Linked DNA regions of Homo sapiens: region 2 is linked to region 1. The links come from fine-mapping of genetic effects on gene expression. A gene starts in region 1. The other region holds a variant in brackets. All regions are shown on one strand. Distances are between the middles of the regions. Region 1 holds the start of KDM4A (lysine demethylase 4A). Region 2 holds the start of KDM4A-AS1 (KDM4A antisense RNA 1).

Region 1 (14,912 bases):
CCATCCTGGCCAACATGGTGAAACCCTGCCTCTGCTAAAAATACAAAAATTAGCTAGGTGTGGTGGTGGGCGCCTGTAATCCCAGCTGCTCAGGAGACTGAGGCAGGAGAATTGCTTGAACCCAGGAGGCGGAGGCTGCAGTGAGCCGAGATCACGCCACTGCACTCTAGCCTGGCGACAGAGCGAGATTCTGTCTCAAAAAAAAAAATAAATAAAAGGAGTTAAGGTGTCAGCCGGATGCAGTGGCTCATGCCTATAATCCCAGCACTTTGGGAGGCTGAGGCAGGAGGATCGCTTGAGCCCAGGAGTTCAAGACCAAACTGGGCAGCAAATAATAAAAAATATTAGCTGAGCGCGGTAGCACATGCCTATCTATACCTCCAGTTACTTGGGAGGCTGAGCAAGGAGGATCATTTTGAGCCTGGGCAGTCGAGGCTGCAGTAAGCCATGATTGCACCACTACACTCCAACTTGGGTGACAGTAGAGACGGTGAAACCCCGTCTCTACTAAAAATACAAAAATTAGCCAGGCGTGGTGGCAGGCGCCTGTATGTAATCCCAGCTACTCGGGAGGCTGAGACAGGAGAATTGCTTGAACCCGGGAGGTGGAGGTTGCAGTGAGCCGAGACTGCACCATTGCACTCCAGCCTGGGGAACGAGCGAGACTCCACCTCAAAAAAAAAAAAAGATGGAGTAGTCAGAGCTGAACAAGGAAACACAAAATTTATTCTCTGTGAATCTCAGGAAAAATGAGAACTAAACATTAAAAACAGCGGAGAAGGGCCAGGAGTGGTGGCTCTTGCCTGTAATCCCAGCACTTTGGGAGGCCAAGGCAGGAGGATCACTTGAGGTCAGGAGTTCAAGACCAGCCTGGCCAATGTGGCGAAACCCTGTCTCTACTGAAAATACAAAAAATAGCCAAGCATGGTGGCGCGTGCCTGTAGTCCCAGCTACTTGGGAGGCTGAGGCAGGAGAATCACGTGAACCTGGGAGACAGAGGTTGCAGTGAGCCAAGATCACTCCACTGCACTCCAGCCTGGGCAATAAAGTGAGACACCATCTCAAAAAAAAAAAAAAAAAAAAAAAAAACCAACAGCAGAGAAGAACTGAAAACAGGCCTACACAAAGAAAGATATCTCTAAAAGAGACAGGAATGTACAGAGAAAGAAGGAGTGACAGAAAATAGCAACCAGCTTGGTGGTTTACTCACACTGTTAATGTCAAAACAGAAATGAGCTAGCAGGCTGGATGGGCAGTGAGAAATTCCAGCACAATTAAACACAGAGCATCCCGAGAGAGAGGAAGTGGAACTAAAGCACTTTTGATGAGCAGGTGGTTGATAATACCCAGCAAAAGCTCCTTGTGCACCACATCCAACTTTCTCCTTGCAACTTTAGAGTCAGAAAATGATTCTACTTCTGATGGAAAAACAATGGGATTTGTTGTTATAAGAACAGGAACAGGTTTAGACTGGGACACAGTCCTGAGAGGAGGGAATGCTTCCATAAAAAAAGCAGAAAGGGAGACAGCTAGAACAGAGCCATCCTGCTGAAGACACTGTTCATCAGGACAGCAGCAGTCCTGGAGATGCTAGGAGGATGAGACACCAGGGTCCTAGGTGCTATGTCAGGTAAGAAAGGGTTTCCACTCACTTATCGCTATTGGCTATCTTGCGGAACTCTCGAACAGTCATGGCTTTCTTCTGTATGTTGTACTGAGTAAAGAGGCCAGACTGCCCCGTCACCAGCTGTTGAATGGGGGCAGGAATGACCAAATCATCAATGTCATCATAGGATGCTCGTGGCTTCCACTCTTTTGGAGGAACAACCTGAAGGGAACACAAGAAACAAAAAGACAGATGAGAAACCTGGCAAGCCAGTCAGAGTCCAGGAAGCATGTAGTTACCAGCCAACCTAACAGTCAATTTTACTAGACAGTTACTTTGATTTACCCACATTCACCAAAACACAGTAAGTCACAGGCATGCTAACCCTGATCCACTTTTGCCACCAACCAGCTGCCTAATTGCAGCAACCTAAGGTAAGTAATACTTGTTCCCAGCTTCAGTATCTTATTTGGACACCAAGAAAGGAGATTAAAGACTTGATTCTCTCTCAATCTCCTAGCCCAGGGCTCTCTTTAAAAAAATCACAAACACAACTTTACTTGATTTGGTCAACTCTATACTTGTACAGAATTTCCTTTTTTCACACACTAGATTACAGTTTAATTACAAAGAAGCATAACATTCTTAAAAATCTAATCTTGAGGCCGGGCACAGTGGCTCATGCCGGTAATCCCAGCACTTTGGGAGGCCGAGGCAGGTGGATCACCTGAGGTCAGAGTTTGAGATCAGCTTGGCCAACATGGTGAAACCCCATCTCTACTAAAAACACAAAAATTAGCCTGGTGTGGTGGCACTCAACTATAATCCCGGCTATTTGGGGGGCTGATGCAGGAGAATCGCTTGAACCCGGAGGCAGAGGTTGCAGTGAGCCAAGATTGCGCCATTGCACTCCAGCTGGGGTAACAAGAGCGAAACTCCATCTCAAAAAAAAACAAAAAAAATCTAATCTTGAATAGTTAAGTAAGATAGATCTGCTTTATGGAATACTATACAGCTTTTTTTTTTTTAATTAGAGAGTATTGTTTTACTTTATGTAACAAGGGAGAAAACAACACACACACACACACACACACACACACACACACACACTCACAAGCATCTGCATAAGGCAACACTGAAAGGACATATAAGAAAATACGGAAAGGGAGCAAGACTCTACATTAGCTACCTTCCAATAGCATTCTGTTTTTACTCACATAATCAAATTACCCATTCCAATAGTAATAAATTAACAAGACAGTCGACATGAGAAAAAAGAAGAATGAGTTGAATCCATAATTGACCTAGAGGGAGGAATATATGTTGTTAAAAAGGAAAAAAGAAAAAAAAAAAGAAAAAAGAATGAACGAACCAACACAGGAATGTATATGGCATGATGCCATTCTCTTTTAAAAACAAAACAAATAACACTATTTTATATGTGTGTATGTTTGTATGAGCAGAGAAAAAGGTGTGGAGGGAGCTAATACCACTTAAGGAGACGGCACTGGAGAAGGTGGATGAAGATCAGCCTTTTCTTTATCTGCGTTTGAAATATTTAACTTGTAATAACCGACATTTTTTTGGTAACTTTAAATCTAATAAAGTACAACCAAAAAAAGCAATGTGCTATGAAAAACTGCACTGCAGGCCCTGCTATTCCCGCCTGCTGTTATTAACCCAGCAGTAGCCGTATCTGCAGATAAGAAAGAGGATGTGGTCGTCTCAAGTCTCTGGAGGCACCAGGGTCCAAGACTGGTCCTCAGCTTTGTAGCCAATGTTCTTGCTTTCTCTTTTCATATTGAAAATGTAACAAGCACATATGGTAGGGAATTCAAACAACATAAAATGGTGTAAAAAATTTCCTCCTGGCTTAGACTGAGGTCCCTGCCTCTCAGTTTCCTGAGGATCTCTCCAGAAATGCAGTTCTTTCAGCTTCCAGCACTCAACCTGATTGTGACAGAATATATGAAAAGCTGATTTGACTCAGGAAAAATAACGAATCCAACTCACAGGAGAAAGAAGTACAAACCAGAAACCAATTTCAAATTACAAGGACCAGAATACTCATGTTGGCTGGCCAGTGCATTCTCTCCCCTTGAAGAAAGTCCACATGGGAAGCCAAATTGCTACTAGAGTGCTGGATGAGACTGAAATGAGAGCAAGAGAAGTCAGATGGCATAAGCACTCACTGGCAGTTCAATAACACCACAGCACCCAGCTCCACCAAGAGGGCTGAGGCACAACAGCAGCCAGGCCTGGAGACACTAGCTCTTTACCTCCCCCTTTCTGAAGATTCCAAGTAGCTCTCTTCCTACCTAAAAGCAGAGATGCTTCTGATGTTAACAACGGGAATTAACTTGCAAATAGAACCGCATTCACTAAAGTCATCACCCCACCCAACTTTCAGTAAAACACAGTTCCGGCCCAAATGTAGGAAAAAAATCTTACTGCTCTGCCCTAGGTAACAAAACCATTTGAACAATCCCAGCTCCTTACCTTGGCTAGCCCTGCCCGATGAGCTCCTTGGGATTCAATGTAGGCAATGTATCTACTGAAGTTTCGGAACTCTTCCATAGTTGGATAAAAGGTCATTATCCTAGCACTGGGATTCAGAGTTTCAGACTCAGAAGCCATTTTCCCTCCTTTTTGAGGTCCCTTTAGTCAGACAGGAATCTGAAGAAACACATTAAGAGTATAAAATAATATAAAAATTAAAATTAAGTGCTGGAAACATCAACTCTGAAAACAGTAAAAGATAATATAGAAATTCAAAAGACACAGTTAAGACTTCACACCTGGAATCTACCTCTAGAAAAGTTATTTAGGGGCCGGGCACGGTGGCTCACGCCTGTAATCCCAGCACTTTGGGAGGCCAAAGCGGGTGCATCGCCTGAGGTCATAAGTTTGAGACCAGCCTGGCCAACACAGTGAAACCCTGTCTCTACTAAAAATACAAAAAATTAGCTGGGCATGGTGGCGGGCACCTGCAATCCTAGCTACTCGGGAGGCTGAGGCAGGAGAATCACTTGAACCCGGGAGGCTAAAGGTTGCAGTGAGCCAAGATTGCGCCATCGCACTCCAGACTGGGCAACAAGAGCGAAACTCCGTCTCAAAAAAAAAAAAAAAAAAAGAAAGAAAGAAAGAAAGAAAAGTAATTTAGGGTGGGGGTGTGGTGGCTCAAGCCTGTAATCCCAGCACTTTGGGAGACTGAGGTGGGCAGATCGCTTGAGTTAAGGAGTTTGAGACCAGCCTGGGCAACATAGTGAGACCCTGTCTCAAAAAAAATTTTTTTTAAATAAACAACAAAAAGTTATTTAAATAAACTAGAAATACAGATCGAAAAGGTTCTGTTTAAAAAGAACCTGATGTATCAAAACTGCATGGATTCAAACCTTATTTCAACAGAGACATTGTTACTGCAATAGGATTGTTCTTGAAAGAAAAAAAAAAGAAAATTGTTTCAGCTAAAAAAAGGAAACTAATTATTTAGTTGTTGGTCCTAATAGTACAGCTAAAATGCCCATATTTTACCCTTATCCTTTCAAGCTACTCCCTTATTAACACCTTGCTAATCACTTTTCAGAGTATTAAACAGAATACACTACAACTTGAAAGCCACCCATGGCTGGGTGCGGTGGCTTACGCCTTGTAATCCCAGCACTTTGGGAGGCCAAGGCTCCTCCCTAGGGCACAGCTAAACCAGATACCTAATAAAAGTTACGTGGCTACAAGATAACAAAACTTAAGGGTTCAAAAGTACTTTGATATTAGTAACATGATTTAAAAGCCCTTTGATATTAGTAACATAATTTTAAAACCCTAAAGTGAAACTGTTCTGTTGAAACTAAGATGCAGTTTCAGCAGTACTTAATGAAATCAAGCTACAGACAAGTTCAGTTGCACTGTACCCAGAACTCAAAGGACAAAATTTAAACTGGCAATACACGGAAAACTTCATAACTGATTGGAGAAAGCAAAATAAATACTTTGTTTTTAGATGAGAACTTCAGCTAAGTGGGTGCATCCCCACAGCTCGGTAACGCAATAGACCACCTCAACTGAAAAAAGACAAAGCATATCAATGAAAATAGGCCATTCTAGAAGGAACACCAGTATGTCCTTTCCTTTACCCACCCTCCTCACTGAGGGTCCAGCAGTTCCGTACCCCCTATCTGGGGCCCAAAGGTATGGCGGTTCAGCTCCAAGACTCTCTTTGAGAGTTGGAGAGCTCAGAAAGGAGAAAAGCGCCTCCAATCCACCAGAAATCTAGTTACAGGCCTGGGAGCAGAACACGGAGCACAACTGTGTAAGGTAGGAGAGAAGGCAAATCCAGTTACCCGTATCTCCTAGGCTTCCTATCAAAAATAAGGCGTGTTTCTAAACAGGCGCTTTTCATGAACCTGGCAGAAACTTTGCATGGCAGGTATACTGTTCTCCCTGTTTTACATACCAGGAAATTTGCCCACAGCCCACTCTTAAGTGCACCTTCCACTGCTCTATACTGCTTACATACTCATCTCCACCTGGACTAAGTCCTCTGCAAGGGCAGCTCCAAGTGTGGAGAAACCCGAAGTTTATTTAATTTTGAAGACCCTCTTAAAAAGAAAAATGAATCCAAAATATCTTACTTTTGCACATTTTATAAAAACATACAATCATGTGAATACAATGTTGGGGCCCTTCCCCGGGCCTTCAAAGGGGCCCTAATGGGCTTCATCAGCCTCTGCCCCTATTCATCTTTGTATGCCTAGAACAATGCATGGCACAGAGTAGGCAATCGGTAACTGTTGAAAAACTGATTTCCTCACCCTCACCTCAATTGTTCATCCCTTCTTCAACCCTAGGATTCCCTTCCCCCAAATCTGTTCCCTGGGGAAAGCTCCCGTTTCATGACACCTTCCCTCCCAATCAGTAACAAAGCCTAGAGATTCAAGAACACCGGCTCCGAAGTCAAAACTCTGAATACAGATCCGGTCTCTGCCGTTTATTAGCTATGTGACCTTGGCTGTGTGAGCTGACTTGAGTCTCAGTTTCTCCACCTGTAAAATGGGGATCCCAACCCCCTGCCCTGCAGGGTCGCTGTGATTAGCTCAGATGATGCAAGCGAAGCACTAAGCACTAGGCCCGGTACTTACCCACTCAATAAAGCTAGCTGTTGCTAACAACCCCCTCGGACTCCCGCACCCTTCCCTCGCAGCCGCTCCCGCGAGCATCACTCCAAAGGCAGCGCACCCTGCTCCCCACCGTCCCCGAACCTCACCGCGCACAGGTTCGGCCCCTCCCGGCCCCGCCGCCTTGGCGAGTGAAGCTCGGCCGCAGGAAGAAGAAAATAAGGCCCAGATGACCCGCCCCCCTCTCCCGAGGTCCATTGGCCTTGAAGATTGGAAAGGACCAATCTCAGAACCCATTCTGGAAGCTCCTTCTCCTATTGGCCGAGAAACATGCCGATCACTCACCGCTGGAAGACCCACCCCCACCGCCCCTCCCCCACCAAAACTCACGGTCACTGCTACAGCGGCAATGATCCTCGAGAATTCCAAAACCCTATAGTTCTCACCTACAGCCCAAAGCCCCGCCAGGGCTTAGGCTCAGCTCCTGCTGTCGCCACTGGCCGATCCTACTGCTTTTCCAGCAGGCGAAGGCCGAAACTCCGCCTCCTCTAAAGTCGGCATCTGCGCAGCCGTACAGAGTCAACCAATTCAAGGGTGGCTGCAAGCCATACACCAGCCAATGAGCACGCGCCGCAGCCACCTCCCAGTCCCGACCTCAGTGTGCTCAGCCTATGAGCGCCGGCTCGGGCTGTTGCCGGGAGGAAACGCTGTACCACTAGGGACCGCGGCCAGTGAGCCTCTAGCTGGATCGCGAAGCTGGCCAATCATAGGCGGGCTCCTGGTCACCCATAACTAATCAGGGTTGAAAGAAGCTAGTACCTGGAAGTGGGCCGGTCCGGTAGATGGGTAAGGGCGGTGAGGTTACTATAGGATGTCGCTAACGAAAGGATAGGCCAAAGTTTTCTTGGGATGAGTATCCTCTTTGCCTAACGTGGAAATGTGTCGGGGCCCTTAGGGGCAGCTTCCGAGCTCAGGGAGTGCTGAAAAGATGACCGTCTTGTCCCGGTTTGTCCTGGGTGTCTCGGTTTTCAAAACAAAATCCCGTGGCCTTGGAAACCCCTCATTCGCTGTCAAGCCTGAACAGGGAAGGGAAGCTGCCCTGAGGGTCATTAGGACAGACCATGAGGGAGGCTCTCCTTAGGGTCATTAAAAAGCAATTCCTGGCCGGGCGTGGTCCCTCACGCCTGTAATCCCAGCACTTTGGGAGGCCGAGGCGGGCGGGTCACCTGAAGTCGGCAGTTTGAGACCGCCTGACCAACATGGAGAAACCCCGTCTCTACTCAAAAAAAAAATACAAAATTAGCCGGGCGTGGTGTTGCATGCCTGTAGTCCCAGCTACTCCGGAGGTTGAGGCAGGAGAATCGCTTGAACCCGGGAGGCGGAGGTTGCGGTGGGCCGAGATCGCGCCATTGCACTCCAACCTGGGCAACAAGAGTGAAACTCCGTCTAAAAAAAAAAAAAAAAAAAAAAAAGCAGTTCCTCAGTGAGCGGGGATTTGGGGGATCATTAGGAGCAGCTCTTGGGGCGGAGAGGGGGGCATCCTGGGAATCAGAAGAGGCACTTCTGGAGGGCGAGGGGGCTTCCTAGAAGTCATTAGGAGCGGTTCCTGAGGGGTAGTGAGTCGCCTTAAGGAATTCCCAGATTGTCAAGGGTAGTGGGGAAGGTCAAGTAGGAAAGTAAAATACCCACAACCAGAGTCATAAAAAAATATACAGAATTACCATGGATGAATAATGGGGTAGTGCCCTGGAAAGAGCTATATGGAGTCAGGCCTGTGTTCAAAACTAGTAACTTCTCTGAGCCTGGGAGTTCACATCAATAAAATGGAAAAAATAATGCCTTGCAAATTTTGTAAAGATGAGAGTTAATGAATGTTGGCAAAAAGAACATATTTCATAGAATGCTATGGACCAATCATGATTTATGCCTCAGGCTGGGTACATGCCTACTGAAAAAAAAATCTTTAAAAAAAATAGTTTCAAAAACAGAAATGACTGTTTCAAAAAGAATGGCCGTTGGCTACGCAGCCACAAGTCTTTCACAATAGGGGTTTTTGCCCTTACCCAGTAAGGTAATCGACAGTATTAGATAATAGATTATACTGAGTGGCTCACAAAAGTGCCGAGTCTGAAGAATCCAACTTGCAGGACACATAAAGAAAACCCAAATCCTGCGGTAGAATTCATCCACCACTGTCTTTCCTGCTGCCACTAAGCACAAGATACTGCAGGTTGCTTCACAGACTCCACTGTCCTGGACATGGATACAGTCGCTAGTTACTGTTACTGTGTTCCATAAACTGGATTTTGCTGTATTTCCTGGTGCTGCCAGATGATTTCCAAGGGCCCTCTACTGTGTATCACTAGCTTCCAATTGGTATGTGCATGTGATAGGTGGAGCCTAAATCAAGTTCTCGTGATATGCTCCCATTTTTCTGACCAGTTTTCCTGTTTCCTTTTTAAGCTCACCTTTCCCTTTGCACACTTTTTGTTTGTTTGCTTGCTTTTTTGTTTTTTTGTTTTTGAGACGGAGTTTCGTTCTTGTTGCCCAGGCACGATCTCGGCTCACTGCCACCTCCGCCTCCCAGGTTCAAATGATTCTCCTGCCTCAGCCTCCTGAGTAGCTGGGATTACAGGCGCCCGCCACCACACCCGGCTAATTTTTTTTGTATTTTTAGTAGAGACAGGGTTTCATCATGTTGGCCAGGCTGGTCTCAAACTCCTGACCTCAAGTGATCCACCCGCCTTGGCCTCCCAAAGTGCAGGGATGACAGGCGTGAGCCACCGTGCCCAGCCCCTTTGCACGCTTTAAATGTCGATATTCTAAGCAAAACTAACCTATAGCAATAAAAGTCAATGTTCTGGTTACTTTTAGGTAGGGGACAGGGAATGATGGGAAAGGGTGGCACAAAGAATGCTCTGGGGTGTTAGGAATTTTTTTTTTTTTTTTTTGAGATGGAGTTTTGCTCTTGTTGCCCAGACTGAAGTGCAGTAGTGTGATCTCGGCTCACTGCAACCTCTGCCTCCCAGGTGCAAGTGATTCTCCTGCCTCAGCCTCCCAAATAGCTGGGATTACAGGCACGTGCCACCACGCCCGGCTAATTTTGTGTTTTTAGTAGAGATGGGGTTTCACCCTGTTGGCCAGGCTGGTTTCGAACCCCTGACCACAGTGATCCACCTGCCTCGGCCTCCCAAAGTGCTGGCATTACAGGCACGAGCCACTCCGCCCAGCGGCAATGTTCTATTTCTTCATCTAGATGGTGGTTATGCTAGTGTGTTCACATTGTAAAACTTACTTTTATTTATTGGTTAGATAGATAGATAGATAGATAGATAGATAGATAGATATTTTTTTGAGACAGTTTCATTCTATCACCCAGGCTGGAGTGCAGTGGTGCCATCTCAGCTCACTTCAACCTCCACCTCCTGGGTTCAAGCGATTCTCCTGCCTCAGCCTCCCAGGTAGCTGGGATTATAGGCGTGTGCCACCACGCCCAGCTAATTTTTTGTATTTTTAGTAGACAGGGGGTTTCGCCATGTTGGCCGGACTGGTCTCAAACTCCCAACCTTAGGTGATCTGCCCACCTTGGCCTCCCAAATTGCTGGGATTACAGGCATGAGCCACCACACCTGGCCACTAAAATTTTAAATTTAAAAAAAAAATTTTTTTTTTTTGAGACGGAGTTTCCCTTTTATTGCCCAGGCTGGAGAGCAACGGCGTGATCTCAGCTCTCCGCAACCTCCACCTCCCAGGTTCAAGTGATTCTCCTGCCTCAGTCTCCCAAGTAGCTGGGATTACAGGCATGAGCCACCACACCCGGCTAATTTTGTATTTTTAGTAGAGATGGGGTTTCACCATGTTGGTCAGGCTGGTCTTGAACTGCCAGCCTCAGGTGATCCGCCTGCCTTGGCCTCCCAGAGTGCTGGAATTACAGGCGTGAGCCACCACGCCCGGCCAAAAAATTCTTAATAGAACTGGGAGGCTGGGTGCAGTGGCTCTCATGCCTGTAATCCCAGCACTAGGGAGGCCAAAGTGGGAAAATCACCTAAGGTCGGGAGTTCAAGACCAGCCTGCCCAACATGGCGAAACCCCATCTCTACTAAAAATATAAAAAATTAGCTGGGCATGGTGGTGCACACCTGTAATCCCAGCTACGCAGGAGGCTGAGGCAGGAGAATCGCTTGAACCCAGGAGGCAGAGGTTGCGGTCAGCCGAGATCACGCCACTGCACTCCAGCCTGGGTGACAAGAGCAAAACTCTGTCTCAAAAAAAAAAATAGAAGTGGGGTCTCCCTATGTTGTCTCAGCTGGTCTTGAACTTCTGAGCTCAAACAACCCTCCTGCCTTGGCCTCCCAAAGTGCTGGAATTTCCAAGCATGAACATGCCCGGCTGTGAAAATTAACTGATCTGTATGCTTGAAAGTTGTGCATAAGTTTTGATATACATATACCTTAGTTTTTAAAAGTAAATTTAAAATTTTTTAGTTAAAAAAAAAAGGAAAAACATGTTAATGTCCTCATAGCTTTAGGTCCTTTGCCCTCTTCTCTCATTCTACACAGTCTTCTTAGGTGCTTTTGTTTTATTTTTTCTTTGAGTTAGGGTCTCCCTCTGTCACCCAGGCTGGAGTGAAGTGGTGCAATCACAGCTCACCGCAACCTCAACCCCCTGGGCTCAAGCGATTCTCTCACCTCAGCCTCTCAAGTAGCTGGGACTACAGGCATATGCCACCAAGCCCGGCTAATTTTTGTATTTTTTTGTAGAGACGGAGTTTTGCCATGTTGCCCAGGTGGGTTTTTGTTTCTGTTTCTGTTTTTGTTTTTTTGACAGCTGCCCACGTGCAGGTGTTTCTGGCTCTACAACTCACTAGCAAGTTACTTAATTTCTCTAGTTCTCAAGTTTTCTCATAACTAAAACTGGGATAGTACTTCCCTTTCTGGGTTGTGAGAATTGAATGAGATAAATGAAGTAATGGGATAATGAAGTAAACCAGTTAGAAGTCTAATTGGCACGTAGTAAGTGCTCAGTAAATGTCAGCTCAGTAAATGATGATGATGGTACAAAGCACTTAGCACAGAGCCTGAAACAAGAGCTCAATACACTTTCACTCTTAGGCTGCACTCATGTGCACACTGATGACACCCATTGTATATCCCAGACATCTTCTCCCTGGAGCTCAGATCCATGTATCCTGCTGTCTCTGGATCCCTCCCCCTAGTTGTCCTACAGTTACTTAAAGCTGACCTACCCAACAAAGAGCTACTCTTGCCCCACAAATAAGCTGTACCTCCTAGGTTTCCTATCTCAGTTAGTGGAAGAGCCATGACCTAATTGCTTAAGCCAGGTGCAGTCCATTACCTCACCCTGTCCAGAGCTCCACAAAGCAAGTATTTTACAAATGCATGGATTTGTTTACATGTGCATCTTTCCTCACTAGACAAAAGTCTCGTGAGAATATCATTTTGGTCTTATTGCTAATACCGTTTAGGAATGTATTCCATTGCCAAAAATAGAAAACCCTAGCAAAAGTGGCTAAATACAAGTTTATTTTCTCATCGGATAAGAGGTCTGAAGGTGGTGAGCCTTAGCTCAGTGCTCAACAAAGTCATGAAACATACAGGTATGTTCCATCTTTCTCTTGCACCCTTTGCAACGTGGCTTTTGCCACCCTCTTGTGCAACTCGTGATTGTAAGGTGACTGCTGCAGCTCCAGAAGGAGGACAGAGACAGTGTCCTGTTTCTTCTATCACACCAGCAAAAAGACTACCAGAATCTGCCTGCCTGCCAGTAATGAGTGGAACAGACCCTTTCCTGCACTCATGGTTTTTATAATCTAGTGAGAGAGAGACATGAAGCAAGTGCTTGCACAAAGAAAGAAAATTATAGGCTGGGTGTGATTCACACCTGTAACCCCAGCTACTCCTGAGACTGAGGCATTCGAGGCTGCAGTGAGCTATTATGGAGCCACTGCACTCCAGCCTGGATGACAGAGTGAGACTCTTATCTCAAAAAAAGAAAAATTGCCACAAAGTTGTGCTTGCTATGAAGGAAAAGAATAGGGGAGAACACCTTTAGAGTGACTTGCCACCAATGGCAGCAGGATTTGGAAATAAAGCTATCATGGCATAAAGTGTATGCCATGTTCCCAGTCCAGGGTTTCCTTTCCTAGAGCTTCACTTTATCCAGCACTCAGCACAATGCCGAGCACATGGCAGGCATGACATAAGTAATCATAATGGCAATATTATTCGCTTAAAAAGTTAACTACACCTAGGCCAGGTGACGTGGCTCACGCCTGTAATCCCAGCACTTTGGGAGGCCGAGGTGGGTGGATCACGAGGTCAGGAGATCGAGACCATCCTGGCTAACACAGTGAAACCCCGTCTCTACTAAAAATACAAAAAATTAGCCGGGCGTGGTGGTGGGCGCCTGTAGTCCCAGCGACTCAGGTGGCTGATGCAGGAGAATGGCATGAACCTGGGAGGTGGAGCTTGCAGTGAGCTGAGATTGCGCTACTGCATTCCAGCCTGGGTGACGAAGCGAGACTCCGTCCCCCCAAAAAAAAAAGTTAACTACAGCTGGGTGCAGTGGCTCACTGCTGTAATCTCAGCACTTTGGGAGGCTGAGGCCAGTGGATCACCTGAGGTCAGGAGTTAGAGACCAGCATGGCCAACATGGTGAAACCCTGCCTCTACTAAAAATGCAATAATTAGCTGGGCATGGTGGCAGGCGCCTGTAATCCCAGCTACTCGGGAGGCTGAGGCAGGAGAATTGCTTGAACCCAGGAAGTGGAGGTTGCAGTGAGCCGAGATCGTGCCGTTGCACTCCATCCTGGGTGACGAGCAAAATTCAGTCTCAAAAAAAAAAACAAAAAACAAAAAACAAACAAACAAAACAAAGTTAACTACATTTATTGAGCTGTTATATTTCAAACACTGTGCTAAATGCTTTATATGCACAAAAATTGTTTACATTTAGATATATGCTATCATTAACAATGTTCTTTTTAATAATATAATTTAATGATTTTTAAATAAATTTACAAACGCATGCAACTATCACCCAATCCAGTTTTGGAACATTTCCATCACCTCAATAAAATCTACCACCTCAAAAAGATTACCCGTGCCCAGTTATAATCAGTCTCCATTCCCACCCCCAGCCCCAGGCAATTATTAATCTATTTTCTGTCTATATAGATTTGCCTTTTCTGGACATTTCATATAAATAGAACCATAGACTATGTGGTCTTTTGTGTCTGGCTTCTTTCACTGAGCATAATTTTTTTGAGAGTCACCCATGTTGTAGCATGCATCAGTATTTCCCTCCTTTCTATTATTGAATAGTATTCCACTGTAGTGTTGATTGATGTTTGGGTTGCTTCCACTTTTTGGCTATTAGGAATAGTGCTGCTATGAACATTTACATGCTAGCCTTTGTGTAAATGTCTGTTTACATTTCTCTTGGGTAGATAACAAGGAGTGGAATAATTGCTAGGTTGTATAGTAAATTTGTGTTTATCTTTTTAAGAAACTGCCAAACTATTTTCTAAAGTAGCTGTACCATTTTACATTCCCATCAACAATACATGAGGAGTCCCATTTCTCCATATTCTTGCCAGCATTTGGTACTGTCTATCTTTCTGATTATAACCATTCTAGTGGGTGCCAAGTAGTATTTCACTGTGGTTTTAATTAGCATTTCCCTAATGACTAATGATGTTGGGCATCTTTTTATGTGCTTATTAACCATTCATATATCCTCTTTGGTGAAATGTCTATTCAAACCTTTTGTCAATGTATTAATTGGGTTGTTTGTCTTCTTATTATTGAGTTGTAAAAGTTATTTATGTATTTGGATACAGATCCTTTATCAGATGTAGGCTTTAAAAATATTTTCTCTCCTTCTGTGGCTTGCCTTTTCATTTTCTTTAGTGTCTTTTGAAGCACAAGAGTTTTCGTTTTGATGAAGTTCAATTTATCAGTTTATTGTATGAATTGTGGTTTTGGTGCATTGACATTAACATTTACATAGTTCTGCTCTGCCCCTAAAATATGTCCAGAATTCAACACTTCCCTTCACCTCCACTCCATCACCCTGCTCCAAGCCATCCTTAGCCTGAATAGGATAATTGCCACAGCCTGCTAATGTCTCTGTATCTCTGCCCTTGCCCCCTGCAGTCTCCTCAACACAGC
Region 2 (14,912 bases), 51 kb before region 1:
AGCTGTATTGCCTTAAGAGATTATTTGAAAGTATCATTTGGCTATAAATTTCTGTGCCAGCTTCCTTTTAATCCTCTGTTGACTTGAAAGTACACCAAACATTTCAGTGATCATCTCTACAAGATAATTCTGCCTTAGAAACAACCTAATTTGTCATGGGGACTATCTTACTTTTAGTAACCTAATAAGAGTTTTTTCCTACCTTAATGTCCAGCTATCTATAATTCACAGTACATCCACTGAAAAGTTTGAGTATTTTACTTTCTGAGGTAATAGCCGCCTTCACTGGTCCTTCCCTCAATTAATTACATTCAGTTATCAGGTTTCACTCCTTCCTCATACGTGAAGGAAACATAAATGAGGCTTACTGAGGAATCATAAAAATGGACATTGTTGTAAAAAGGAATCCAAAATGTTCATGGGACACTCTCCTAACCAAACCTGCCCTCCTCACTAAGATATTTTCTCTTGCAAGCAAAAGCACCGAGGACACAACGGGGGAAAGTGCCAGAAGGAAAGGAAGCAAGAGAGGCGTACTTTGCCGATCAAACTGACCCCAGTTCTGGCCCCCGCTAGAGCAGTAAGCAATGACAACCGCTACCCAAACGCTGCCGATTCCCGCTCAGGCGCTCCCTGGACTTTTCTTTCCTTTTCCCACAGCAGGGCCCGAATGACGGTGTCCGTGCTCTGCGCCAAGGTGCGCAGCGCTGCGGGGTTTCACACGGAGATGATCTCAGACCTCCTGGCCTGCGTCCGGCCGGCCTTTCCCCCAGGCTCGGCGGCCCCCACCCAGGAGAGGTCATCCAGGTACTGGGCCCCCAGCCCGAAGGACGACTGGGCCGTGCCCCGACCCCGCCTTCCCGGGCACTAGCGCGCGGGCTCCGCGCCCCGCCCAGCCCGGGACCCGCGGCCGGCGGGGGAGGGGCGGGGCGGAGCGGCGACCGTTATTCGCGGTCAGCCATCGCGCCCCGAAGCGCACTGGGCAGGCCCTTACCACAGCGGAGAGGGAGGCAGGGGGGAGGTGGCGCCCGGCCCGACGCGGGGCAGGAAGGCGGAGGCAGCGGCGTAGGCGGCGGCGACAGCCGCGGGGGACCCCGGCGGGAGCCCACAACGCGCTGGGCTGCATGGGCGCCGCCATAGTGGGGACGCAGCGGCGGGCGGAGCGCGCGGCCGCGACCCGGTCGGGCGCCTGCGACCAATGGGCTCGCGGAAGCCGGGCGGAGCGAGGGCCTGGCCAATGCGGAGCTGCGCTGCCCCGAGCAGCCCAATAGACGCAGGAGCCGCGGATTTGCCGTCCCGCCCACCCCGCCTACCACGAGAGCAGTGCTGCGGCGAGTGCGGGGCGAGAGGTTCGCGCTGGTGGAGCACCCCAGCTTGCAGGTTCAGCGTGGGTGTCTCTCCCGGGCACATCGAGCTGTCTAGAGGAACCCTCTTCCCCTGGCTTCACGGCCCAGAGGACGCACGGCTCTCTCCCCTCGAGAGCGTGTTTCGTCGCCCGCGCGGGGAACGCAAAGTGCTAGGGTAGTCACGGCCACTTCACGCCGAGGGACATCTCATCTCGCCCTCCAGGTCGTGAGCGCACCCATTCCGCTCACTGAGGCCGAAAGCTTCGGACCTCCGTGGGCCCTGGTGGGTAAGGGGGCACGGGGGTGAGCGTTAAGAGACTCGTAGAACATTTTTAGTCCGCGCGTGGCACAAGGCCTCCAAGCCCCACGTACACTTTGCAGCCCTCCCACTCCTTTTTCATTCCTGCGGCTGAGCCCTGGTGTTATCCGCCTGGGGCGGAATTTAAAACTTAATTCCTCAACAAAGTCGGGGTGGTCTTTAAACTGCAACCTTGGATCCAAAGGCCCTACCTTACAAAGGGAAGGCAGTTTGCCCTACAAAAAGGCTTCTGGGAGGAGCTGCCTAAGGCAGGAAGGGACTGGCAGGCCGGGAGGTGCCGCTTTTGGCTGGGGCCAGTTCTCTTGAGGTCGACCCGACTGCATAGGCAGCCAGTAGGGGAGAGAACGGGCCGGTCTGTGTGATTTGGATCACCTGAGTTGCAGTTTCCTAAGAGTTATTAGGTTGACCAAAAAAAAAAAGTGCAGTTTCTGGAAAACTGGTCAGCTGTTGAGTAAAAACTGCTGGGATTAAACCCAGCGCCCACCCCTGGAGGCAGTGGGGTCATCGAGAAAGGTAGGGATCCTGTGTAAAAAGGCTGGTGAAGTGTTCCTCTCTTCCAAAGATGTATGGATTAGTGTTCTCTCACCAATCCACTAAGGCCTGGTTCTGCCCAGCCTCCCTTGCTACATCCCCTGGGAATCCCCAAGTGGAGTGTGGGCAAAGAAAAAAAAAGGCCAACTTCCCTCCCTGGGCCCCAGGAGGGAGCTGACATAGAAAAGATCACCTCCTGCACCTCCCTTTCTCCACAATGAGATACCAAGTAGCAACCACCTCTCAACCCCCAGGGACACAAGGAAGCATCCAGAGCAGCTGAACTGACCTAAGCCTCTCCTGCACCTGGACAGGGCCATGCCACAGGAAGTGCCTGGCTGTTTAAGGGCCAGCCGGTGCAGCTCCGGGGCACCCAAGTCCTGCACCTATTCATTGCCCCCCTCCCTGCTCTGTGGTTCCCCATCCTTGTCCACTTTGACCTCAGGGATCTACCAGCCAAAGGAGATTGGGTCTTCCTCCAGGGAAGCTTCTCACCAACTAGACAGCTCGGAGAGCAATCTGAGGATCCCACTGGAGGTTGAGTCCCTTGCTTTTCAAGCACCTAAAATGCACCCATCCTTCCCACTGGTTCCACAATTTGTATAGAGCACAGATGCTGGCATGAACTTAGGCCAGTTCAACAAAGATGTATCAAATGGGGCAGCAGTGAGAGATACTCTGTTGAGAGGACTCATTGGTCTGGTGCTTCCTCTGTTACCTCATCTTGCCCGTCTCTAAGGCAGAGCAAGCACAACAAAGAGGTGCTCAGAGCCAGAAGTGTCCCTGCTCCCATGACCCACCATACTTGGCCTAATACAGAGCTTGACAAGCAAAGGACCCACTCTCTGGAACTTCCTAGGGAATGCCTTACTGATTTGTCTTAAAATACACAGCCCCGCTCCAGAGCCTATGACTCTAGATACACCCCCCAGCCTGACGTGGGCCACGTGGGCTCCTTGGGGCAGACAGCCAATCCTCTGCTCAACACATTTTATTGCTAAGGACAAGGTGATGCACCAGTTTTCAAAATAATTTGGTTTATAGTGTTCATACGTAACAAAAAAGGGGAAGTATTATAAATCTGATTCTTGTATACACAGGGTATTGGTGTGAAGCCCTCCAATCCTGGGCCCAGGCAAACAAATTCTTGAGGAGCAAAAACCTGTTTAACCCCTTCAGTATTGCCCTCTAGTCCCACCCCCCACCCCAAAATCAGCTCCCTCCCACCTACAGTGGGCCTCCAATGGCCCCAGTTTTTTCATCCTAACCCTCCCAGCCCCTGCATGATTGCAATTTTCTGTTGACAGAATCACCCACCAGGCTCTGCCTGCTTCCATCATTAAAATCCCCGATTCAGGGTAATCCCCACCCACACCCTGTAATACTTTGCCACAGGGGCTCTGCACCTAGAGTGTTGTGGGCACACACCCATGTTATCCCCATGTTCTCCTTTAGGGGAAGACAAAGAGGTGGCATCAGCTCCTTAGCATCTCAATACTGCAGCTTTGCCAGCACTGTCTTGAGACGGTTCCAGGCCTGGACAGATGCCACACCCATCTCCAGCCAACCCCCAGGAGCCCTTACTCAGCTCAGCTGAGGGCAGAATTTCACATTTTGTTTGCCCTGCATAGGCAAGGAAGAAAGTAAAGGCCAGGGGCTGGCAGAAGCTGGTCCAGACCAAACATACACGCACGCACGCACGCACGCACACACACACACACATATAAATACAAAAGTAGGGGTTGGGGCAAGTACCAGCACCTCAGCCTAGTCGGTGCAGGTGATAGTTATGAAGCTAAGTCCTAGGCCAGGAACAAGGCAGCCAGTCCAGCCAGCATAGTTGACCCCTCTATGGACTGGGGCCAGTGCAGCCACAGCATTCCAGTGCTCAGCCCCTCAGCTGGGAGATCAGCGACTGCTGCCACGTGCCCAGAAATGGCTCGTCCTTTCACTACAGCGGAATGCAATGAGGGTGGGTGAGAAGATGATGGGTCGGTTATTTCATTCCTTTTCTTTTTACAACTTCACTTTCAGAGACTTCAGCGTTCCATGTCTGCTGTGCTGTGGAACCCAGAGTGCTCTTGCCTGGATGGCTGAGAATCCCTTGGACCCTGGAAGCACCTACTCCATGATGGCCCGGTATAGTGCAGGCTCAATATAATCTTCCCGGTATCTTGAGTTGATAACTCGTTGCCGTTTCTTTTCTTGCTTAACCTCTTTCTCTGTGAAAATCTCATTGAAGCGCATGTCTGAGGCTACTGACTATAGAAGAATAAGCAAGCCAAGTGTCAGCTACCCCAGGAACAATACAAAGGGATGCATCCTTGACTTGTTCCCTCCCTCCAAGACAGGAACTGGGGGGACACAGAAAATACTCACCAGTCTAGATTTGACTCTCTTGGGAAGCTCTTCATCCAGTGTGTATACATCATCTCTCTTAACCACAAGTTGTGAGCCATCCTCAAACTCCACCTACCAAGGAAACAAAGGCCTTTTGGCTAGGATATCCCTGACTCTTTCCCTGGTCCACCATGCACAGTGGCAGTCCCCTACAGTCAAAGGAAGGAGTTAGAACACTAAAATAACAACTACCTTACTTCACATTTGGCAGACTGGAAACAGGGCAGACCCCTAGCTCTGAAAGGGTTACCAACCTATTAGTTCTCCTAAGAGCAAAGACTCGCCTCTGGCCCAACAGGAAGCACAGAATTAATCAAGCACCCCCCACTCCCTAGAAAGGTAGAACTTTGGATACCTGGTACATTTGGATAGGGTGGGAGGCCACAAACTTGGCTCCATAGACTTGGCCGTCTGTCCATCTCACTTGGACCACTTCCCCTTCAGCAGGAGGACCAAACTGGAGACAGTCCTGGCTCTGAGGAAACAGGAAGGAAGGAGGGTGAAAGGAACGTCCACCTGCACACAAAGGTAACTGTCCTCTACTCAGGGAAGAGTGAACCAGGACAAAGTAACTGTTTTAGAGAGCAAGGCAGCTCTCTGGGCTGAAAAATGTTAACAGTTAAAGACCTTGCTAAGTCAAAGTCTGCCCCTATCTCTGCCCTCTCCTGCTTCTAGGTGACCAAAAAAAAAAAAAAAATCCAGCTATAACAAACTTAGTAAACACAGGAGTTAAGTGCCAGAATCAAGAGTCCTTCTTACATTCCCTCAACTGTTCCCCTGCGGGTTCTCCAGGGCTCTGCCATGAAGAAATACTAGAACCATACTCAACTATAAGACATGTGTTTTTTTTGGCCAGGCACGGTGGCTCATGCCTGTAATCGCAGCACTTTGGGAGGCTGAGGCAGGCAGATCACCAGGTCAGGAGATCAAGACCATCCTGGCTAACATGGTGAAACCCCATCTCTACTAAAAATGCAAAAAATTAGCCAGGTGTGGTGGCAGGCGCCTGTAGTCCCAGCTACTCGGGAGTCTGAGGCAGGAGAATGGTGTGAACCCAGGAGGCGGAGCTTGCAGAGAGCTGAGATCACGCTGGAATACAGTGGCCTGATCTTGGCTCATTGCAACCTCAGCCTCCTGGGTTCTAGCAATCCTCCTGCCTCAGCCTCCCGAGTAGCTGGGACAACAGGCACGTGCCACCATGCCCAGCTAATCTTTGTATTTTTAGTAGAGACGGGGTTTCACCATGTTGGCCAGTCTGGTCTCGAACTCCTTACCTCAGGTGATCTGCCTGCCTCGGCTTGCCAAAGTGGTGGGATTACAGGCATGAGCCACTGTGCCCAACCAAGAAATATGTTCTTAACAGGAAAGATGAAAAAGAGTCACCTACCATGGGACCTGGCAAAGTACTTCAGAACTTTTATTCCTTCCAGAAGCAGGTAAGTACCCCAAGTCCTCATCGTATTCCCAGCATAGGGCTTGGTATACGGGGGGATATTTCATTCAGCATATTGGCTGAATGAAAGGTCTGATAGGTATACCTGGGAGAAGGTCCTTAGGGACATGGCTTAAAAAATGAGAGAGGGGCAGGGCAGTGAGTCTAAAAGGATGTGGATGCTCACATCTGCTCTTACAATCATGCTACAGTTCATTTATTGAGTGGAAACAGTTCCCTACTTATTGACAATTCATTTACTGAATAGGTAATCAGTAAATACATTTTGTATCAATCTAACAATTAGGCATAAACTACAGCCTCCTACACCCAATATCTGAGGTGTTCTAAGATTTAACTACTCAAATGTTTGATATTTGATAAATTGTTTAAGTTCTCTGCAATTCAGTTCCACCTCCTATAACAGCACTTCTGAAAATGTGGTCTGTGAACCTCTGAGGGGTTCCTGAGACACTGTCAGGGAGCAAGTGAGACATGGCTATTTTTATAATATTAAACTATTAGCCTTTGTCACTGTGTTGTCATTTACCTAGGATAGGTACAACTGCTGGCACCTGAGCACAGATCAAGGCACTGACCCTAAGCTCTACTAGTTGTTATTGCATTTTTCACCACTGTACACTCATAATTTAGGAGAAAAGAGCAAAAACTCTAGATTGCATGTAACAATATCCCTTGATGAAGCAGTAAAAAATTATTAATGTTGTTAAATCTTAATCATTGAGTACATGTGTTAAGTCCTCATAAGACACTTTTGGTTGTCTCAAAGAAATCTATCTGTGTTGTTTGAGTTGTGAATTACACTAGCTGCTTTGTTCATGGAATACCAGTTTTATTTGAAAAAAATTACTAGGCCAGGCATGGTGGCTCATGCCTGTAATCCCTCACTTTGGGAGGCAGAGGTAGGAGGATCGCATCAGCCCAGGAGTTCAAGACCAGCCTGGGCAACACAGGGGAGACCCCATCTCTACAAAACATAAAAAATTATCCAGGTGTGATGGCACACGCCTATAGTCCCAGTTACTCGGAAGGCTGAGGACTGCTTGAGGCCGGGAGGATGAGGCTGCAGTGAGCCATGACCATGCCACTGCACTCCAGCAGTGGTGCTGCGCAACAGAGCAGGACCCTGTCTTTAAAAAACTCTATGAAAATTTAAAAAAAGAAAAAAGTGACTGACAAACTATGGCTTTTCAGACTTAGGTATCTGGCAGACATCTTCTTGAAAATGCATGAAGTGAACGCCTGTCATGTCAAGGAAAACAAAAGTCAGTATCTGTTGCCAATAGTAAAATTCAGGCTTTCAAACAAATATTAGCATTTCAGAGAAGCGGCATTCACAACTGTGAGCTTGAAACTTCCCAAAATTCCAAGTTTTTTGATTATTAGTGATACTAACAAATGTAATTTTTAAAATATTTATGGCCGGGCGTGGTGGCTCATGCCTGTAATCCCAGCACTTTGGGAGGCCAAGGCGGGCAGATCACGAGGTCAAGAGATTGAGTCCATCCTGGACAACATGGGGAAACCCTCTCTACTAAAAATACAAAAATTAGTTGGGCGTGGTGGCGTGCACCTGTAGTCGCAGCTACTTGGGATGCTGAGGCAGGAGAATCGCTTGAACCCGGTAGGTGGAGGTTGCAGTGAGCCAAGAACGCACCACTGCACTCCAGCCTGGCGACAGAGCGAGACTCTGTCTCAAAAAAAAAAAAAAATTAAATTTATAATAATATTTAACAACATTTGGAGGCTGTCGATAGGCCAGTGCACCAATATTTTCTAAATGACCAAAGTATGATGTTATAAAAGGATGCATGGGTGAAAGATCCATTCAGAAGAGACCAATGGGTTT[T/C]AGTGTTAACAGTATGAAACGTTCACTGACCTTTCAGATTCCACACTGCAACTAACTTTTAAGAACCTGCCAGGAGCAGTGGCTCACACCTGTAATCCCAGCACTTTGGGAGGTTGAGGCAAAAGAAATCGCTTGAGCCCAGGAGTTTGAGACTACCTGGGCAAGATGGCAAGACCCCATTTCTACAAATAGCCATGCATGCCTGTAGTCCCAGCTACTCGGGAGGTGCTTGGTCAACAAAGCAAGACATCATCTCTTAAAACAAACAAACAAACAAAAAAAGTTGTTACTTCCATTGAGTTTTGGTGGATATCAGAGAATAATAAACACAATTACCTGAAAGACTATTAAAATACCTCCCTTGGCTGGGAGTGGTGGCTCACAGATGTAATCCCAGCACTTTGGGAGGCCGAGGTAGGCGGATTGCTTGAGCCCAGTTTTGAGACCAGCCTGGGCAACAAGGCAAAACTCCATCTCTACAAAAAATTAAAAAATTAGCTGGGCGCCAGTGACAAGGGCCTGTAGTCCCAGCTACTTGGGAGGCTGAGGCAGCAGAATCACTTGAGCCTGGTATGTGGAGGTTGCAGTGAGTTGAGATCACTGCACTGCACTCCAACGTGGGTGACTGGAGTGAAACCCTATTTTAAAAAAACAAAAACAAACTCCTTTTTCCAATTACATATCTACGCAAGGCTGAATTTTCTTCCTATACTTGAACCTAAACAGTGTATCACAATAGATTGAATCAAGAAGTGACATTAAGGCCAGCGCGGTGGCTCACGCCTGTAATCCCACCACTTTGGGAGGCCGAGGCGGGCGGATCACGAGATCAGGAGATCAAGACCATCCTGGCTAACATGGTGAAACCCCATGTCTACTAAAAATACAAAAAATTAGCCGGGCATGGTGGCGGGCGCCTGTAGTCCCAGCTACTCGGGAGGCTGAGGCAGGAGAATGGCGTGAACCTGGGAGGTGAAGCCTGCAGTGAGCCAAGATCATGCCACCGTACTCCCGTACTCCAGCCTGGGCAACAGAGCAAGACTCCATCTCAAAAAAAAAAAAAAAAGACATTAAAGAGATTTGCAAAATTGCAGGGAAATGGCAATCTTTTGTTTTTGTTTTAGAAAAGTTATTTTTAATCTAAAAAAATTGATTATTTTAAATCAATCTGCTTTAATTTCTAATAAGAATAAATACGTTTAGATGTAACCCAGAGAAACACAGGCTCTTTGGGGTCTCTAACTTGTAGAAAATGGAGTCCTGAAACCACTGTAAGTTAGAGATAATACCACATCCTTCTCACAGTGGGTATGAGAAGATAAAGAGATACTTGAAATAACCACTTAGCATAGTGCCTGGCATACTGTACCAGCTTAATAAATTACAGCAAGGGCCAGGTATGGTGGCTCAAACTCTTGTAATCCCAGTGGTTTGGGGGCCCAAGATGTGAGGATCGCTTCAAGCTGCGAGATCGAAACCAGCCTGAGCAACAAAGCAAGACCGTTGTTACTACAAAAAATTTAAAAATTAGCCAGGTGTGACTGCATGTGCCTGTAGTCCCAGCTACCTGGGAAGCTGAAGCAGGAGGATCACTTGAGTTCAGGAGTTTGAGATTGCAGGAGCTATGATACAGCCACTGCACTCCAGCCTAAGTGACAGAGTGAGACCTGGTCTCTCTCAAAAAAAAAAAAAAAAAAATAAGGCCAGGCACAGTGGCTCACGCCTGTAATCCCACCACTTTGGGAGGCCAAGGTAGGCAGATCACTTGAGCCCAGGAGTTTGAGACCAGCCTGGGCAACATGGCAAAAGCCCGTCTCTACAAAAAATTAAAAAATTAGCCGGCTGTGGTGGTGCGTTCCTGTAGTCCCAGCTACCAGGGAGGCTGAGGTGGGATGATCACCTCAATCCAGGAAGTTGAGGCTGCAGTGAGCTGAGATTGTGCCACTGCACTCCAGCCTGGGCGTCAGAGTGAAACCCTGTCTCACAAATAAAATATAAATAAATGATAGCTATGCTACTGCTATGAGTACTACTAATGTCGCCTTTTCTATAAGTCTACCTTATAACTAATGAATGTGCTTTTAGCAACTGAGTGGCTAATGTGGTATAAACATGGGACAATACCTGATTTGTTAAAGGAAAAAATGGTTTCATTCCTCTCTACTTTGGTGGTCAGTCTACCAACTGAAAAGGCAAGGTGGGGGTAGGGGAAACCTGAACTAAGTCCTCACTACCAAGCCAGACCTAGGACTGGGTCCATGTGGGGCCACTGTGTCTCAGGTGTTGATAACATAAACAGGCCAAGGGTGTCTCCAGGCAGTTTCTACTTAGCCCTAAAGCCCACTGTGAAGAGACAAAAGCAGATTCTATACATCTACTAAGAGGGCCTGATAGAAAAGAGAGTTGGATAATTCCCCTAAAATCACACAGCTACTAGGCAATGAAGCTGGTATTGGCATATTTGATTCCAAAGCCTGGGCTCTCCTATTGCACTAGAATGCCCTCAAGGATAATTTAGACGGCAACAGATGCAGGTTTCAAGGAATTGCAGAAAATACTGATTCCCAGGTACTTCTAGGGAAAATAGGGTACCCTAGCAGCACGCAGTTTTCTTTGCAAAGAAAGACTGGTACAGATGATTCTTTCTGTTTGAGGACATGGTGATGGGACCAGGGACCTGGCTAGAAGAAGCAGGCATACACACACAGTCTGCCAGCCAGACCTTAGAAACATCCCCCCATTCCAAACTGCCTGAGAAGCTCCTTGCAGATATTACCACTATGTCCTCAGGATAAAGATTGTCGCTGAAGGAGCCATCATCAAAGTTGACTTCATAGAAGGTCTCGGTGGTGAGCCTGACCACTTCACACTGGTAGAAGCGCCCGTTCTTATGCTTGCTAATGACTTTCTGGCCTGCAGTGATGCTTTGCAAGGCCCCCTTGGCACGCTGGAAAAAAACAGAGGCTTTGGTTACTCACACGTGGAGTTTGCAGGCCTGGCATATGGAGATGAAGATCAATTAGTTCCTCCTTATCAGGGAAAGATAAGCATGGGAAAGTAAAAGTAAAAAGGAGAGAAGAGATGGGAGCTAAAACAAGCCTTTCCAGATACCCACCATCCCAGCCAGGACATTGGAAGAGACCAGTACCACATTTCCTCCATAAATTTAGCTCTTCCCATAAATTTAGCTAGTCCACAACTGGCCCTTATACCATATTATCTTACCCAGAACTCTCTGAACAACAACATGGACCTCTGATCTTGCCAAGAACTGACATCAAAGTATCGAAGGAGAGACTCAATAGGTGCCCTGAGGCCTGGGCCGCCAGGCAAAGCTGCACCACATCTTAGCACCTGCAGCATTACCCTCAGGGCTAGGGCACAAAGACTTAGGTTTCCCAGATGTCTCCAGCTACACACAACAAACTGTCCCCCATTCCAAGGGCCCTGCCATTGCCATCTCTGGTGCCCTCAACCATGCCCTTCTCATTCTGAACTTGCCCTTGATGCAAACAGGATCACAAAGTATGTGACGGCCTCATTTCCAAGCACGCCTGCTAGCCTGCCCAGGCACTCTGCCCCAGCCATGCTGGCCCCCCTTGCTGTTCCCTGAATGAGTGTGCCATATGTGCTGCCACCCAGGGCTTCGACACTGCTGGTTCTTCTACCTGAGATGCCATTCCCCAGTTACTTGCACACTGACTCCCATCCCAGTGTCAACTTATTGATGTCATTCCTTACTACTTCATCTTCCATTCCCCTTATCTGACTTAATTTTTATCCCTGCACTTCTCACCATCTGCTATACTGTGTATTTACTTGCTTCTATGTGTCCTTCAACTATACTGTATGCACCAGAAGGGCAAGGACTTTTTTGTCTTGTTCAATGGTATAGTCCTGGCACCTAAAACTGTGCCTGGCATATAGTAAATGCTCAATAAACATTTGAAGAATAAATCAGTGAAAAAACTACTAACTCATCAGTCCCCCCAATTTCCTCATAGCACCAGCAGTCTACAGCTGCCAGCTTAAGCATGTGGAGTATTAATGATTATCACAAAATAACTATTCTGTGTATGAAAAAACTCTTCCCTATCATAGCTGTGACTCAGTACTACCTCAAGTTTTTACTTGCATTAAGGGCAAGTTCAGAATGAGAAGGGCATGGTGAGGGCACCAGGGATGGCTAGGGCAGGGCCCTTGAGACACTCCGGAGTCTCATTCTCACATACAATATGTTCCCATCTTCCTAAGGTCCTTCCTATCATACCCCTGACCACCTGTCACGTTCAACATCTTTATGAAAAAGAATGCAGTCAGCCAACCAGGACTTTTCTGCAACCCCAAATGGCAGAGTGAAAAGTTCATCCTTCTGGGCTGGCCATCTATCACGTTCTTCCTTTGATTATGTATTTACCACACTGTTGTCAAACTTGTATGATCGCCTCTTCTATTAGATTGTAACTCACTCATGGCAGAGCCTTCCCCAACTACGGTCTGGCTTCTGACCTGACTACTCCACAGGGACACTCCAGTTTGTGGTACTTAGTGACCACCACACCAGCCCTGCCTTCTCTGTTGGATATGACCCTCCTTCCTCCCACTGGCTTGCTTCACTTTCTCAACTGCTTTCACTGGTTCATGCTCTGCTACCTGCTTCTCCCACTGGGAATCTCCAGAGCCCAGTTTCTAATGGGAACTAGATTTAACTATGCTGTTAAATGCTAATAGCCAAATCTTTACCCTCACAGTTACTCTCCAGAATGCTCCAGTGACCTCAGCATTTACTTTCCTCTTTCTCATCCCTCCTTCTCTCCCTTGCAGAGCAACACTGCTTCATCTCAGTTCCTGATTGCAGTTACTAACATCATATTAGCATCCTTCCCATCTCTCAAGGGAGTAACCTGAGTCATCTTCAATATTCACTCCCCCTTTCCTCCTCCTCTCCCCTTCTCTCCTCAACCCACGAGGGTCAATAAACCCTATCAGTTCTACCTGTTGGAGGATCTCAAAGTTAAATGTACCCCAAAGCCCTGCCTATGTGTTCCCATTTCAGACCTCACTCTCTCCTGGACTAACTGGTTTTCCAGCCTCAAATTCTTACTCTGAATCCTCTCTTCAAACAACCACCTGAGTGATTATCAAAAACTATAATGCAGAATCAAAATATTCAACAAGTTCTCATCCAGTGAAGACAGGTCAGAGTCCTGAGAGTGGCAGTGCAGGGCCTTCATCCTCTGCCGTTGTCCGCCTCTCAAGCATCACACTCCCACACACCGTCACACTCCCATAACCAGTCTTTCATGATCCTTCTTCTGCGACCTGTTCATTCTGTTTCTCAAGCTCTGCACACAACAGTCTCTGCATACAATTCCTTCTTATTGTTTAAGACCCACTTCAAATGCCACCGTCTACCCAATCCTCTTCAGAGCTCCTCTAGCTAACATTACATGTCACTTTTTCTCTAAGCTTTACCATTAAGAGAACTGCAGAAATCTCTACTGTCTGGCAATTCATGGTTAACTCTTGGGAGCTCTCCCCATTTGTTCTCAACATTTTCAGAGGTTCTGCATGTCCCGGACACTAGGTTAAGTAATAAGGATGACCACATTAATAAGATATGGACCCTCAAGGAGTTTATTCTGATGGAGAGGCAGACAAGTAAAGAGATAATCAAAACGAATCAACTACAAGCAGTTTGGTGTCACTGGCTTATGGAGTACAAGGCAGGGAGTGGAGATGGACAGGGGCCACCTCTCAATCTCTTAACTCATTAGCACTCTTCATAATGCAGAATGCTTGAGGAAATAGTTGCTGATACAACAAATGGAAAACATGCAGAGAAAATGACCATGAAAACTGTCAAGAGGATTCTAGAATGACACCCTCTCTCACCTCCAAATTAGGAATCTTGTGCCGAAAGCAGGTAATGAAGACCACAAAAGGCCAGTCGTCAGGCTGCATCATCACACCGGCAGCCTGGGCGCAGCTCACATGGAAGGCAGTTGGGCAGCGGCCGTGAGAACACTGCACACAGCAGCCAGCAGTTCTTTTCCTCCGCTTCTTACAGAAGATACATTTCTGTAGCACAGGGGAAGAAAACCAGTGATTGCAGGAACTGGCACTGCAGCTTCCTCTGTTGTTCCCCTCCCAAATGCAAAGCCAAGCAAGCAAGAGCCAGCCCCTTCCCAAAATACAAGGACACACCAGCCTGCTCTAATCCAGGTCTGGTTACAACTTTATCTGCCAAGGAAATTTTTTTTTTTTTTTTTTTGAGACGGAGTCTTGCTCTGTCACCCAGGCTGGAGTGCAGTGACACAATATCGGCTCACTGCAACCTCCGCCTCCCGGGTTCAAGTGATTCTCCTGCCTCAGATTCCCGAGGAGCTGGGATTATAGGTGCGCACCACCACTCCCAGCTAATTTTATATTTTTAGTAGAGTCGGGGTTTCACCATGTTGCCCAGGCTGGTCTTGAACTCCTGACCTCAAGTGGTTCACCCACCTCGGCCCCACAAAGGGCTGGGATTACAGGTGTGAGCCACCACACCTGGCCTCCACTAAGGAATCTAACCACAGAGTGAGAATCACAAACTCTAACCAAAACCAAGGGGTACAGGAGGTCCCTGTTCTCTTCTACCCAGAAACTTGTAAGTCGGGAAATTATGTAGAGTCTACAAGCCCTTACCAGTTTGAAGCGGGGCAGGGGGATTTTGCTCACATCCACCGGACTTCTTTCTGCAATGTTGACAAACCTTGCTTCCAGAATTGCCACAGCACATGAAACGTGGACCCACCTGCCAAAAGGCAAAGGCTCCCTCAGTCACCTCTGGGCCCAAGGCTCTGTGGCCTTCTCTTTTGGGCCTGCTGACAGCGCTTCCTCCCTCACCTGGGTGACCACTGACTTCCACCAGCACATGCCTGGGACCCAGGAAGGTGAGAACCAGAACCGTCTCTCCTCTGAGTATGTGGAAGCAGTGCCACCCCCACTGCCCACCTAGGCCACTGCCCACTG

The links. PIP is the estimated chance that this variant, and not a neighbour inherited with it, causes the effect.
Region 2: its variant is fine-mapped to the expression of KDM4A in nasal epithelium (TOPMed, PIP 0.94).

The regions. Positions count from the first base shown.
Region 1 is chr1:43,642,507-43,657,418 of GRCh38, reverse strand. KDM4A (lysine demethylase 4A) reads right to left here and starts at 7,270. Exons shown (of 22, transcript NM_014663.3): 1 at 7,167-7,270; 2 at 4,106-4,282; 3 at 1,653-1,828. The coding sequence starts at 4,243. RefSeq lists a silencer at 7,384-7,503.
Region 2 is chr1:43,693,776-43,708,687 of GRCh38, reverse strand. It overlaps KDM4A (lysine demethylase 4A), which reads right to left. Exons shown (of 22, transcript NM_014663.3): 17 at 14,586-14,694; 18 at 13,794-13,979; 19 at 10,675-10,845; 20 at 4,952-5,071; 21 at 4,576-4,668; 22 at 3,170-4,458. The coding sequence ends at 4,318. It overlaps KDM4A-AS1 (KDM4A antisense RNA 1), which reads left to right and starts at 1,347. Exons shown (of 5, transcript NR_033827.1): 1 at 1,347-1,629; 2 at 4,231-4,335; 3 at 5,041-5,124; 4 at 5,960-6,032; 5 at 7,936-8,964. ST3GAL3 (ST3 beta-galactoside alpha-2,3-sialyltransferase 3) reads right to left here and starts at 1,152. Exons shown (of 12, transcript NM_006279.5): 1 at 995-1,152. RefSeq lists silencers at 685-734, 765-1,264 and enhancers at 1,395-1,474, 1,200-1,717. The variant T/C (reference allele first, on the strand shown) is at 7,899.